Linked DNA regions of Homo sapiens. The protein of the gene in region 4 interacts with the protein of the main gene of each other region in a biochemical or structural test. Each region holds a gene or a part of one and is shown on either strand. Other genes may lie near its edges.

The links.
Region 1: the proteins of LIN7A (region 4) and TYRP1 interact in a test that uses a peptide from one of them, tested with the Homo sapiens proteins (one large-scale study listed by IntAct).
Region 2: the proteins of LIN7A (region 4) and TMEM215 interact in a test that uses a peptide from one of them, tested with the Homo sapiens proteins (one large-scale study listed by IntAct).
Region 3: the proteins of LIN7A (region 4) and SLC22A12 interact in a test that uses a peptide from one of them, tested with the Homo sapiens proteins (one large-scale study listed by IntAct).

Annotation. Positions count from the first base shown.
Region 1 is NC_000009.12:12,696,385-12,699,884, reverse strand, and holds part of TYRP1 (5,6-dihydroxyindole-2-carboxylic acid oxidase precursor), read right to left. Parts: intron 1,435-3,500; coding exon 1,230-1,434; intron 1-1,229. UniProt on the Homo sapiens protein: Plays a role in melanin biosynthesis. Catalyzes the oxidation of 5,6-dihydroxyindole-2-carboxylic acid (DHICA) into indole-5,6-quinone-2-carboxylic acid in the presence of bound Cu(2+) ions, but not in the presence of Zn(2+).
Region 2 is NC_000009.12:32,786,892-32,789,701, forward strand, and holds the end of TMEM215 (transmembrane protein 215), read left to right. Parts: 3' UTR 1-2,310; downstream 2,311-2,810.
Region 3 is NC_000011.10:64,594,220-64,597,719, reverse strand, and holds part of SLC22A12 (solute carrier family 22 member 12), read right to left. Parts: intron 1-3,500. UniProt on the Homo sapiens protein: Electroneutral antiporter that translocates urate across the apical membrane of proximal tubular cells in exchange for monovalent organic or inorganic anions. Involved in renal reabsorption of urate and helps maintaining blood levels of uric acid.
Region 4 is NC_000012.12:80,812,435-80,815,934, forward strand, and holds part of LIN7A (protein lin-7 homolog A), read right to left. Parts: intron 1-3,500. UniProt on the Homo sapiens protein: Plays a role in establishing and maintaining the asymmetric distribution of channels and receptors at the plasma membrane of polarized cells.

The sequences.
Region 1 (3,500 bases), on a different chromosome or scaffold from region 4:
CTCATTTAAACTGTGTTTTATTTTGGTATCCAATCATCAGGGTGATTGGGAAATGTCTAGAAAACTCTCAGGCCAAAATACAATGGCCTGGTCACAAAGAGTATAAACATTTTGGCATCTGCAGACATCCTGATCCTCAATTTCAGTTCTCTGCCACAAGGTGGGATCATGCATTCAGCATACCAAACAAATACAAATTTATTCTAAGTTTTAAACTTCTACAGAGGAAATTTTCATATATTATCACTTCTCTTATTCCTATACATTGCTAAATAATCTAATGGTGAAAATATGTATCTAATTCCTGCTGATTTATTTAGAGTATTTCTTATTTAAGTTCATAAAATAATACTTGATGCATAAAATAATACATGTAGAATAAGTATGTGGTGATTATAATAAGAAAACAAATTCACATAACTCTTATTTTTATATGGAAGAACAATCAAAAGAGCCATACATGCCTGAAGAAGAAAAATAAGATGAGGTAGGGGGTGTCTAATAATTAAACCTTGTGTTACTACCACAGGCACAAATAATAATATGATCCAAGGAGGAGAACAGAAAGCTCAGGAAGAGATCTACATGTGGCAGAAACTTGACCTGTGACAGTGGTGGCATTCAGATCACTGGAGAAAGGATGCTGGGACAACTGATTAGGCGTACTCTTACTGTGTTCACTTTGGAAGAGCTGGAAAGCAGCTAGGGGGCAGACATCAGTACAATATACTCCTTTTCTGAAAACTATCCCCCATATCAGCTTTTGTTTTCTAACTTTATAACTGCAAGCATACATTTGGTTTGCTTCTTTTCTTTTTTTTCTTCCCAGGGCATTTCCAACTTTTTGCCTATTTTTCACATTTTCTTAGGAAACATTTTCTGTGAAATTCCAACACAAGACACATGACTTCTAAGTAGTGCTAAGAAAACTAAGAGGATTAGTTTATACAACTAGACATTTCCAAAATAAGAAAGTTAGCAAGATATTGACCAAACTACTCAAGAAAGGCAGTGTAAAAATGTGTAGGCACTTTCTGTTTCCCCTGGAGCAACTTCTAGAGTACCTTGAACATTCTAGGTGTTTAATGAATGCCTGGTACACTGTTACTCTATAATAAAAGTAGATTTTAGTCTGAATTCTCTAGTAGAATGAAGGGCCTTTCAGGCAACATATTTAATCTCTTTATCTAAAAAGAAATTCTGACTCCAAGCTATCATTTGGAACTTACTGTTACAAAGTGTTCCCAGGGTATCATAATCTTCCAAGGAGTCACAGACCACTCGCCATTGAGAAAAGACAGAGTTTGGGCTTATTAGAGTGGAATCAAAGTTGCTTCTGGATCCCATCAAGTCATCCGTGCAGATATCACAGACATTTTTCCCCGTTGCAAAATTCCAGTAAGGAAGGGAGAAAGAAGGCTCTTGCAACATTTCCTAGATCACAGAAACCACATTAATACTCTCTGCTTCTGTTTACAATTATTCATTTCTGTTTGGTCTACTCTCTGACAGTCTATTTCTATTAGCTCTCTTCAGACAATAAGGTACTGGTTAGTATATCAACGGTGTCTGAGGGGCCCAGAGGAGTTAAAACCTTATTTAACAAAGCTGGTAATTTATTACAAGGTGTCATTTAGGCATTAGAGGGAATGAAACTCAACTCATTATGCAGACATTTCTGAAAATGATTTAAAGGGATAAAGGGTCTTCTTTTTCTTTTTTAGGCAGATAATTACATTTATATTGGTTATACAAAAAAGTTATCAATAACAACATCCACTTCTTGGCATTTCCACCTTCTTCCATTTTCCTATCTTTAATTCAAGCATCATTAACTCTTAGTCTGGAGCCAGATCCAGCCTTAAAATATGTTTTGTGGAGTGCTAATTTTTGTTTTGCTTCTGTTTTTAAATTTAATTTGAATGACTAGGCATTTAGATTCTGGTTTGGCAACAGGCCAATGGACTCTTTCACACTGAGCACGGAAGGTGTTTTATTTAGGGAACCCTGCCTTAGAATCTAAACTTTTAAGACTCAGGCTTCTGCCTAAATTTATACTGATAAAAATGCTAAACAGAAGCAGAGTAAATCTTTCTGCCCATTGTTTTTTAGATCAGAGACCTAGTTTCCATTCAAAGCTGATCTCACATTTTTAAAAATGCTGGCCTCAAGATCACATGCTTATTTCATTCGGTTCTTTAAAACATACATTTCCTTGTTATTTCTCATTTCTTTGGTGCCTTGAGAAGTTCTATTTATGGTATGGGATTTAAATGTAGGGATTGCAATTGTTTTATCTTATCTCTCAAGCACTCAGTATATTTCTACTTTTTCACTTTAAATCCCTTCCTAGGAAGCATTTTCTTATCCTTGGGTGTTTTAGAGAGCCAAAAGCTTTCCAAGTTATCCCCAGTTATTGGTCTCCAGGGGTTTGTAGTCCTCCTTTAGAAGCCATCATTGTGGTTCACAAAAATTAGTGACAGCTTCCAAGGGATCATTAAGAATCGGTTTGTGGTTCAGCAACTGACATTTGGGAGCCAGAGCATATTCATGTGGCATTTCAACCACGAATTACATTTAAATTCTAATTTGTTGCATCCCTTGTGCTGTTGGGTCTTTAAAATGTAAGTCATAGAGGTTGAAGTTTACACAGGCAAAATTGAAGCTTTTAGATACTTTCCACCTGCCCTTTCATTTTGGTGTGCCCATGAGAAAATGACTTGAAGGCATGAAGATCTGCAGTCAATTACAAATGACAGATTTATCTATAATCTACTAAATGTCTTACTTGCAATCAGAGCTATAAAATATGACGTTCAGAGTATCAGATGAATTCATTTAATCACTCTCAAACTGCAAATGGATAGTGTACTTTCAAAAGAATATTTTATCCTGTATGTTAGTGCATTAATTCTCTCTCTTCTAACCATTTATTTTTTCTCGGAATAATGCTGGCACAGCATTCTGCAAATTAATAAATGAATCTAAACGCCTTTCCCTTCTTCAGATATTTTTAGCTTAATTTTTATATCTTAACTTGAAGGGGGAGATTCATTGCTGTTATTTCACATAGAAAACAGGTTTACTTTGTGGATTTCCTAGTTGAGATCTAACAACTTAAACTTTTATTTTAAAATTTCCATATTTTTCTCAAGGAACAGAGCAGTTGGTAAAAGAAATAAGAGTAAAGAATCTACGTAACTAGATACTTTAATATGTTTGAAGCTTATCTGCTTAGAAAATAAGCATGAAATAACTGCTTGAGTTGAGGTTCACTTTGTGCCAAATAAAAAGCCAATGTCTTTTCACTAAAAATATTGCCTGACTGATATAATTATTTTGATATTTTTCAACTTTTTTTCAAATTTTACATATTTTAGGTGTACAACATGGTGCTTTGATATAAATATACATAGTAAAGTGATTACTATAGCCAAGCAAATTAAAATATCTGTCCTCTTATATAGTGATGTGATATTTTAATAGGTTTCTTCTGTAAG
Region 2 (2,810 bases), on a different chromosome or scaffold from region 4:
TGGGGAGAGATAGTTTCCTAAAATCACAGTAACTTTTAATAATTGTAATGCATTTTGAAAACAGAGAATCATATTTTTATAATGGTGAGAACTATGCAATAACTCTTTAGGAATGAAAACTTCCTTTAAGAAGTTTGCCACCGTTAGAGATGAGGAGATAGTGAGACAGAGAGATGTTCACAGAGACTCAGCAAATCTTAGACAATAATGCTGCAATTTTCTGAAAGAAGATGCTTGCAGTGTCAGGTATGGTTTGGGGGTTGGAAAAGTTACTTTTCTGATTTCTTGGAACCATTTAAAACTCCTTTATATCATTCTGTCTCTTTCCAAATTGAGGGTCAACTACTAGTTTAGAGATATAAGGTATTTTATCTTGTTTTCAAGTTCTACTTCAGAAGAAAACCTATTTCATGTTTCTTCTCCCATTACCTACTTAAGATACTTAAGGTATTTAAGTATGCATTTGAGGAAATATTTTCCTGTGCTAAAATAAAGGTTTGCAAATGTTGGTGTGAGAGGTTTTAACTTTGACCAGTGAGAATAAAATGTATGATTGTGTGTGTGAATTTCTCCTAACATATTAACCAACTCCTTTCTATATGCAACAAGGTAACCTGGTGCCCCAAATCAATACTTGTAAGTACTATTCAGAGTTAAACTTCCAAAGTCAAAAAATATATATACACAAAAAAAGGGGAAAAGCCACATTTTTTTGAACAGAGGTAGAAGAGAAAGAGAAAAAAAGTGTCTCAGCCCTTTAGAGGAAAAGAGAGCAACTCATTCTGATGAGTTACACAGTTTTAGCAAATTGTTCTTATCAATATAATAGACATGAGGATTGTTCCTGGTAGCCTTCAAGAGCTCCTAGACAGATATAAATTTAAGTAGACATTACTTTATTTTGCTGTTAATCCAAGTAGACATTGCGACTTGATTCTGAATAGGCATTTTATTTTCAAAATTTTTCTACTGAATTTCTCTTGCTCTGTATGCCTACTTATTGTGCACATGGGTTGTTTTTCCAAACTGCTTCTTGATTCTTAAGTGAGAATTCAGACATGATACTCAAACGAGAGCATATTAGACATCTGTTTTAAGATTTATTTTCTGTTGCAGTCATCTTGGCAAACAAAATCCAGATACAGTTAAGTTCAGGCTCTCTTCCAAACCCTGCTAAGCAGCTGCTTTGAAAATGTTTTCAATACTATGGATCTTAATATCCACTGAGATGACAAATGTAGGAAAGGAAGATTCATTCTGTTAAATGTTTTTTCTCTTTTGCAATGTCCAAGCTCTACTTATTTATTAATAGCCTCCCTCTGTACCCATAACATCATTTATTTGGTGAATTCACTGTTATTAATACTAGTATTTTATCACAGTAAAGAAAAGGTTTCTGAAAACCCACAACCTCACTATCCTAAAGCAACTACTGTGTTTCTATTTTGGTATATCATCTTCCAGGCTTCCTCCACATGCAAATGCAGCATACATATTATAATAGTGTGTTTTTCTTTTCTCTTTGAATTATATTCCATGCATGTTTCCATGTTTCTATGTAGTATTTCTAATTATCAATGAACGATTGTGTAATATGCCATTTTAGTGATGTTCCATAATTTATCATGCCATTCCTTATTGCTGGCAAGATACTAAGTTTTATGGATGATTTTGTATGTTTTTTTCCTATTGCTGGTTACACTGCTATATTATTTGTTATATGCCAATAGAGAGGAACTTTACTATTGAACAGGTATCTCCTTGTGGATGAGAGAGAGGAGGCAGAAATGTGTAAATGAATGGAACTCTCCATATTGTTGTGTGGGTCTTCCCTTCACTCTTGTGGATATAAGACCCAGGGTGGGAAACAAAACGATGCTTCTTCCAAAAGATCCTCCCATCAGGACCAGAACTAGTATGTTTAGGAGTAAGATGGAACATTTCCCCAGCTAAGATACCAGTGGTGTGTTTCTCACAATTAGATTACAGTGGTGTCAGTCTTCAAGAGCATCGTGTTCAACAAGCAAAATGATAAATAGATGTAAACAATAATAATGACTTTGTAATATGCCAAAAGCATTTTCTTAAAGTACCTCATCATATATTTTATAATAGATGTATTTCATATGTATATGTATTGTCGCCTATCAGTGACTTACAAATGAACTGGAATTTCAGGAATCTGATAGACTCTGCCCTTGAGTTTTCTGTGTTTCAGTTTCCTACTGGGAAAAACTAAACTGAGGATGGAAATGGGGACAAATGCTTGGTTTGCCCAAATATCTTAATAAAAGACTAGATTCCATTCAACCTCTTGTCCAGTTCACATAAAATCATGTAGACACCACTGAGTCTGAGACCATGACTTTGATTTCTCATGACCTACCGCAGGGTCCTCACTCTATGGGCACCCAACCAAAAGAAATGTGTACATGATGCTGCCCAGATACACAAACAGGCAGGCACTGATGTTAGATAGCCAGTCTTTGGCAAGTTGTTCCTGGGACTGACCCTTACTAGGGATTCTTTTTTTATTTTTCCCTTTATTCCTTCCCTGACCCCAGATTACAGCCTGCAGACTTGGTATTCTCGGTGATAGTACAAAGCTTTGCATGCTTTATCCCTAATAAGGTACAGAGTTACAAAATGAACCGATTACAAAACAGTACATAAAGCTATTAAAAATCTCCTGTGCTGCTCTTTGACAAATCTATCTTTAGAAAGTTGAACATAAAAGATAATTTTGCAATTAGTCACTTTCTTATTTTTCATGGTAATGAACTATTGTACATAAGACAACTCTTCAGTAG
Region 3 (3,500 bases), on a different chromosome or scaffold from region 4:
TGGCTCCTGCAGGTCCTTCAGCCAGACGTGTTGTCCCCTATGAGCAGCCAGGGTGGGGCCACCTGCCCTACACCCACCGGGGCCCTGAGCTCCTTAGGGATTTGCAGAACAGAGGGGAGAAGTGGAGATTCCAGGTGCATATTAGAGATAGAGCTGATGAAGCCTGGTGACCCAGTGGACTTGGTGGGGGGATGGTGAGGGAGAGAGAGGCGTCATGGCCACTGTGACTCTGGTGAGTTCAGGGGCTGCTCCCCACGCTGGGGAAGACTTGGGGAGGAGAGGTCTAAGGAGATGTGTGTGGGGATGAGACACCTATAATGGAACCGTCACGTGGGCAGTTGGAGGTGTAAGGCTGGAGGTCAGTGGGGGAGGCAGGACCAAGTGGAGATTTGGGGTCTGCAGTATTTGGAGGGAGCTGGGGCTGCAGGCAGGGGTGAGGCTGCCTGAGGGAGAGAGTGTGGACTGTGCCCGCCACATAGCAGGTACCACAAGTGATGGTGGCCAGATCATTGTGGGTGACCCTGGGAAGGGCAGTTTGGGCGGAGAAGAGGGAGAAAGCTGACTGGAATGTGTTGTAAGTGACTGGGAGGGAGAAAGCGGGGTCCCATTCTCAGATGTCAATACCCCAGGTTGTTCGTCAAGCCCTAAGCACAGTTTGTGAGGCCACGATGTGTGGGATTCCCTATGAGCTCCACGTGGGCAGAGACCACATATCTGCTCATAGCTGGTGTCAGCCAGCGCCTGGCACATGGTAGGTGCTCAGTAGTTATTTGTTGAATGAATGAAGTAATGAATGAATGAATGGGCACTTCTTCAGCCCTGTGGGAGCACGTCTACCAAGGAAAGGGGGGTGCAGCTCTGTGGCCCTGCATCAGCATGAGAACCAGGAGGGGTGCCTTGGAATTTTTATCACTGACCTTTACCTTCCACTCTCTACCCTCTTGGTGTTGGGAGTCAAGCTGCCATCCCAGAAGGCTCTTGTCGGACACGATTGCCTCCTTGTGGAGCCACTGTATGAGATGTAATTTTCTCCTGCTCTGAGGAGTGGCTGCAAATTGTTACTCCACTCCAAGCTGTTGGGTGGGAGAGATTTGTGGACTCAGCCTTCTTCTTAGTGTGGGTGCGGGCACCTGCTCACCACTGGGCCTCTGCTGTGCTCCTTTCTACAGTGGTCCCAATGACCAAACAACTACTAAGTGCAGGGCCTGTGTATGAATGATCCAGGCTCAGCCCTGCCCTCAAATGGCCTCCGTCCATCCATCTATCCATTCATCCATCCAGTTCATCCAATTAATCCACCTATCCATCCATTCAACCATCCATCCAACCATCCATCCATCCATTCCATCCATCCATCCATCCATTCATCCATCCATCCACCCATCCATCCATCCATCCATTCAACCATCCATTCAACCATCCATTCAGCCATCCATCCATCCATCCATCCATCCATCCATCCATCCATCCATTCCATCCATCCATCCATCCATGCATCCATCCATTCAACTATCCATTCGACCATCCATCCATCCATCCATTCCATCTATTCCAACTATCCATCAATCCATCCATCCATCCCATCCATCCATCAATTCCATTCATCCATCCATTCCATCCATCCATCCATTCAACCATCAAACCATCCATCCATCCATCCATCTATCCATTCCATCTATTCCAACCATCCATCCATTCCATCCATCCATCCATCCATCCATCCATTCCATCTATTCCAACCATCCATCCATTCCATCCATCCATCCATCCATCCATCCATCCATCCATCCATCCATCTTTTCCAACCATCTATCCATTCATCTATTCCAACCATCCATCCATCCATTCCATCCATTCAACTATCCATCCATCCATCCATCCATCCATTCAACCGTCCATCCATCCATCTATTCCAATCATCTATCCATCCATCCATTCATCCATTCCAACCATCCATCCATCCATCTATTCCAACCATCCATCCATCCGTCTATTCCAACCATCCATCCATCCATCCATCTATTCCAACCATCCATCCATCCATCTATTACAACCATCCATCCTTTCATTCCACCCATTCAACCATCCATCCATCTATCCATCCATTCAACCATCCATCCATCCATCCCTCCTTCCATTCCATCCATCCATCCATTCCAACCATCCATCCATCCATCCATTCCAACCATCCATCCATCCATTCATTCCAACCATCCATCCATCCATTCCATCCATCCATCCATCTATTCCAAACATCCATCCATTCCATCCATCCATCATCCATCCATCCATCTATTCCAAACATCCATCCATCCATCCGTCCGTCCATCCATCCATCCATCCATCCATCCATCCATCCATCCATCCATTCAACCATCCATTCAACCATCCATCCATCCATCCATCCATCCATCCATCCATCCATCCAACCATCCATTCAACCATCCATCCATCCATCCATCCATTCCATCCATCCATCCATCCATCCATCCATCCATCCATCCATCTATTCCAAACATCCATCCATCCGTCCATCCATCCATCCATCCATCCATCCAACCATCCATTCAACCATCCATTCAACCATCCATCCATCCATCCATCCATCCATCCATCCATCCATCCTTTCCATCTATCCATCTATCCATCCATCCATCCATCCATCCATCCACCCATCCATCCATCCATCTATTCCAACCATCCATCCATCCATCCATCCATCCATCCATCCACCCATCCATCCATCCATCTATTCCAACCATCCATCCATCCATCCATCCAACCATCCATTCAACAATCCATCCATCCATTCCATCCATCCATCCATTCCATCCATCCATCCATTCCAACCATCCATCCATCCATTCCATCTGTCCATCCATCCGTCCGTCCATCCACCCATCCATCCATCCATTCATCCATCCATCCATTTATTCCAACTATCCATTCATCCATCCATCCATCCATCCATCCAACCGTCCGTCCGTCTGTCCGTCCATCCATCCATCCATCCATCCATCCATCCATCCATCCATCCGTCCATCCATCTATTCCAACCATCCATCCATCTATCCATCCATTCAACCATCCATTCAATTCATCTATACAATCCAATCCATCTATCCACCAACTCACCCATCCACTCATCCAATCCACACATCTGTCAACCCATTTATTTATCTGTCTCTATCTATCTACCTACCTACCTACCTACCTACCTACCTACCTACCTATCTATCTATTTCTACTTACCTAACAATTCATCCATTCAACAAATATTTATTTAGCACCTACTATGTGCCAGGTGCTCGGCAAGGGCCACGCCTGATTTGTTTCAGGGCAGTGCTGACATTTCCTAACCTCCCACACATGCCGGCCCTCTGTGGGGACTGTGGACTCCCCTCTGATGAGTGGATCCTGGTCCCTGTCTTCCAGCAGACAGACACAAGCATTGATTCTGTCAGCCCATGAAGCAGACTGCGGCTGTGCGCTGTGTGTGC
Region 4 (3,500 bases):
ATGTCTCAAACACTGTAAAAAAAAAAAAAAAAAAAAAAAAAGGCAAACCAGAAAAACAGTTTCAGTATGTGACTGTCATATACTTAGTGCAAAAGGGTTTTTTTTCTGGTTTATTTGCCCTTTTTTGTTTTTTTGAGACAGAGTTTCACTCTTGTTGGCCAGGCTGGTGTGCAGTGGCCTGATCTGGGCTCACCACCACCTCCGCCTCCTGGGTTCAAGAGATTCTCCTGCCTCAGCCTCTCGAGTAGCTGGGATTAAAGGTGTGCAACACCACGCCCGGCTAATTTTATATTTTTAGTAGAGATGGCGTTTCACTATGTTGGCCAGGCTGGTCTTGAACTCCTGACCTCAAGCGATCCACCTCCCTCAGCCTCTCAAGCTGCTGGGAGTACAGGCATGAGCCACCACACCCAGCCTGCCCTTCATTCTTCTAACAAGTCAATAAAGATCTAAGCAGAATGAGCAGTTGACATGCATGGACAAAAAATAAAAAATATAAATGGACAATAGACCTCAGAAAAGATATTCAAACTCCCTAGTAATCAAAGAAGTATAGACCGACATAAAAATAAATATACAGATATATTTTTTTTTGAGACGGAGTCTTGCTCTGTTGCCCAGGCTAGAGTGCAATGGCGCGATCTTGGCTCACTGCAAGCTCCGCCTCCCGGGTTCATGCCATTCTCCTGCCTCAGCCTCCCGAGTAGCTGGGACTACAGGTGCCTGCCACCACGCCCAGCTAATTTTTTTCTATTTTTAGTAAAGACAGGGTTTCACCATGTTAGCCAGGATGGTCTTGATCTCCTGACCTTGTGATCCGCCCACCTCGGCCTCCCAAAGTGCTGGGATTACAGGCGTAAGCCACCGTGCCTGGTCAATATTTCATTTTTAACTTAAAAATGATAAATATATATTTTAAAATTTGGTGTACAGACAAGGATGTAGGAAAATTGGACTCAGACTGCTAATAACTTAACAAAAACTGGTGAAATTTTTCTGGAGGGCACTATCGTTATGCATTGAATAAGCCCTTATTATAAGTGAATAATTTTATATTAAGAAAAATCTATTCAGGATACAATCAAATAGGCACACATACTTATAAGATAGATACAGAAAACAAAAAACAAATCAATTCTTGGCTTTTGAGTTTCAAAACAGTCTTTTGAACATCATGGCGTAGACAATACTTGGAGAAACTATGCTTCCTCTAAGTAAACACAATGCTGCTTTTTTCCCAATCTTCTGAAGATTCTCCAGGTTAGGATGATGGAGAAGCAAAAAGAAGAAAGTTGTAATTAGACTTTATAGGACCCTACATAAGGAAACCCTGGCTCCTGCCCCTCTGAGCGGATCACCAGGGCAGATGACAGAACCCTTAATTTACAGGATTGAACTGCCAAGGCCTTTTTGCCTTGCTTCTTGGGTAAAGTACAGAGAAAAAAAATCACTGTGCAGTGTGATAGATGGAGACTGAGATAAGGTTAAAGAGTGTCAGACGACCTAGGAGTCACACTGAAGAGGCAGAGAAGGCCACCCTCAATTGTTTGACATTACATTTTCACAATCCAAGCAGAAGGGAAACTCAAAAAGATACTAAATTGAGTTACAGAAAAATAAAGGAAGTGAAATCTTAAGCACCCTTGAATTATACCTTCAGATTCATAATTTCTACTGCAGATTTGGAGACTTAAGGGATCATTTGATCATTGGCTTAGCCACTCAACTAATATGTTTATTAAGCATTTATTTTATGAATTATAGTCTACTACGTTTCTTGAGAAAACATGAAAGGAAGGTAAACTTTGACAGCATCGTGCAATATAAACCCTATTTTCAGTATGTTTGTAATTTCTTTATAACTGGTCCCATGATGATTTGTTAATGCATATAATTTTCCTTTGAAAGGAAAACTTGGTGATTTGGTTGTCTACATACCCTTCTCTAATTTCTTTTTTAATATTAAAACTTACATGTTTATGTTTTAATAATGGTTCACCCAGTTTCTAGGCCAGATCATCAGTCTGTAGACTTCTTCGTGGCTTTTGTTCTATTTGCTTTTATTTAATAGGGTTGGAGATTCTAGGCCAGACCTTTAGAGGCCCATTATCTCTGTTTTGGCACTGTGTCTGCGATTCAGTTGCCACAGGAGGGCTGTGGTACTAATGTGTGTGGGCCATTAGGCTCTCACGGTGGTGGTGAAGAGTTGAGAGAAAAACGGCTGGCTGGTGCACCACACACCAGGCCCTGCAAAACCATCAAGGTTATCCTCTTCCAGTCCCTGCTCTGCCCTCTCCCACACAGTTAACAATGTATCAAAAGCAGACTCCACAGTTTTCAATTCCAGAAATTTTGCCTTCATGCTTTATCTTCAGTTTAGACAAGGACTCAGATTCTCTTTAAGGCTCAACAGAGTCAACAGGTCTGTTGGTTTGGCTCTACTGTCTTTCCCACCAGGACACAGAGCCACTATGAGAGATCTGGGCAGTGTCACAGTTCCTCATTTGTACTACTGAAATGCTTTACTAACATCCTACAAATTATATAATTAAGCAGCTAAGAAGTGAATTTTAGAAAGATATTAAGAAATATAAGCATACTTGAAAAATTTTTATTTCAAACACTCCTCAACTTTGCTTTTTAATTGTTTTCAGAAGCATATCTTGTCTTAAGGATTATTTTTGTGGCCTTTTTTTCCCCACTAGCTTTGCCTACTTTGTAAATACTTTTGAGTACATATGCTTGTCTCCTTAACCTATTATTTATCTCTGGAGTGCTTTTAGTCCATCAGTATAACTTTGTAATAAGAATAAGGCAGTTTTCTCTTCTTCTTTCTTTCCCTTTTAAGGTAAGAACAAGAAATCAAACCATCTTGCCACAGAAGTCTTGTTGCATGAATAAAAAGAAGCCAAAAGATCTACTCAGTTAGGGTATAAATGTTGATGTGCAAGCCCTTCACAGGTATTCCTTGAGCCCTGAAAGTTCAGCATCTATTCTTGCTTTTGACTTAGTCTGTGTCTCACTCTTAATGAAAGTATGCATCATTTCTAGCTAAATATTTAAGACATATTTTGAAATGTGATAGGTTATTTATAAACAGTTAAGCTATTTTTATCAAAGCTGTATATACAAGCACTCCTGATTCAGAGTTGTCTTTTATAAGAACCAGTGTAAGTTTGAGCAATCACTGAAAACTTGTAGCACCAGCTTCCTACATAGGCTGAGAAGGTGGTTCTTATATGACTTTAAGAGCTCTAAAAAGACTTCTTATTTTACAGTGAAACCCCCTCCTCCATTTAAAAGCTGAAATTCTATATTTTTAAGTTTTATCCCCTTGCTTTAAGAGTTTTGTTGTACCTATTGCATTAGCATAAATTAATTTAACAAGGCCTTGCAATGGACGTCTGGTAAAATTGGATTTTATTAAGAAGGTGAGGAGTGATGAGAACAGCCTGAGGGTATATAGTAGGTACCCAGGAAATATTTTGACCAAAGAGAAG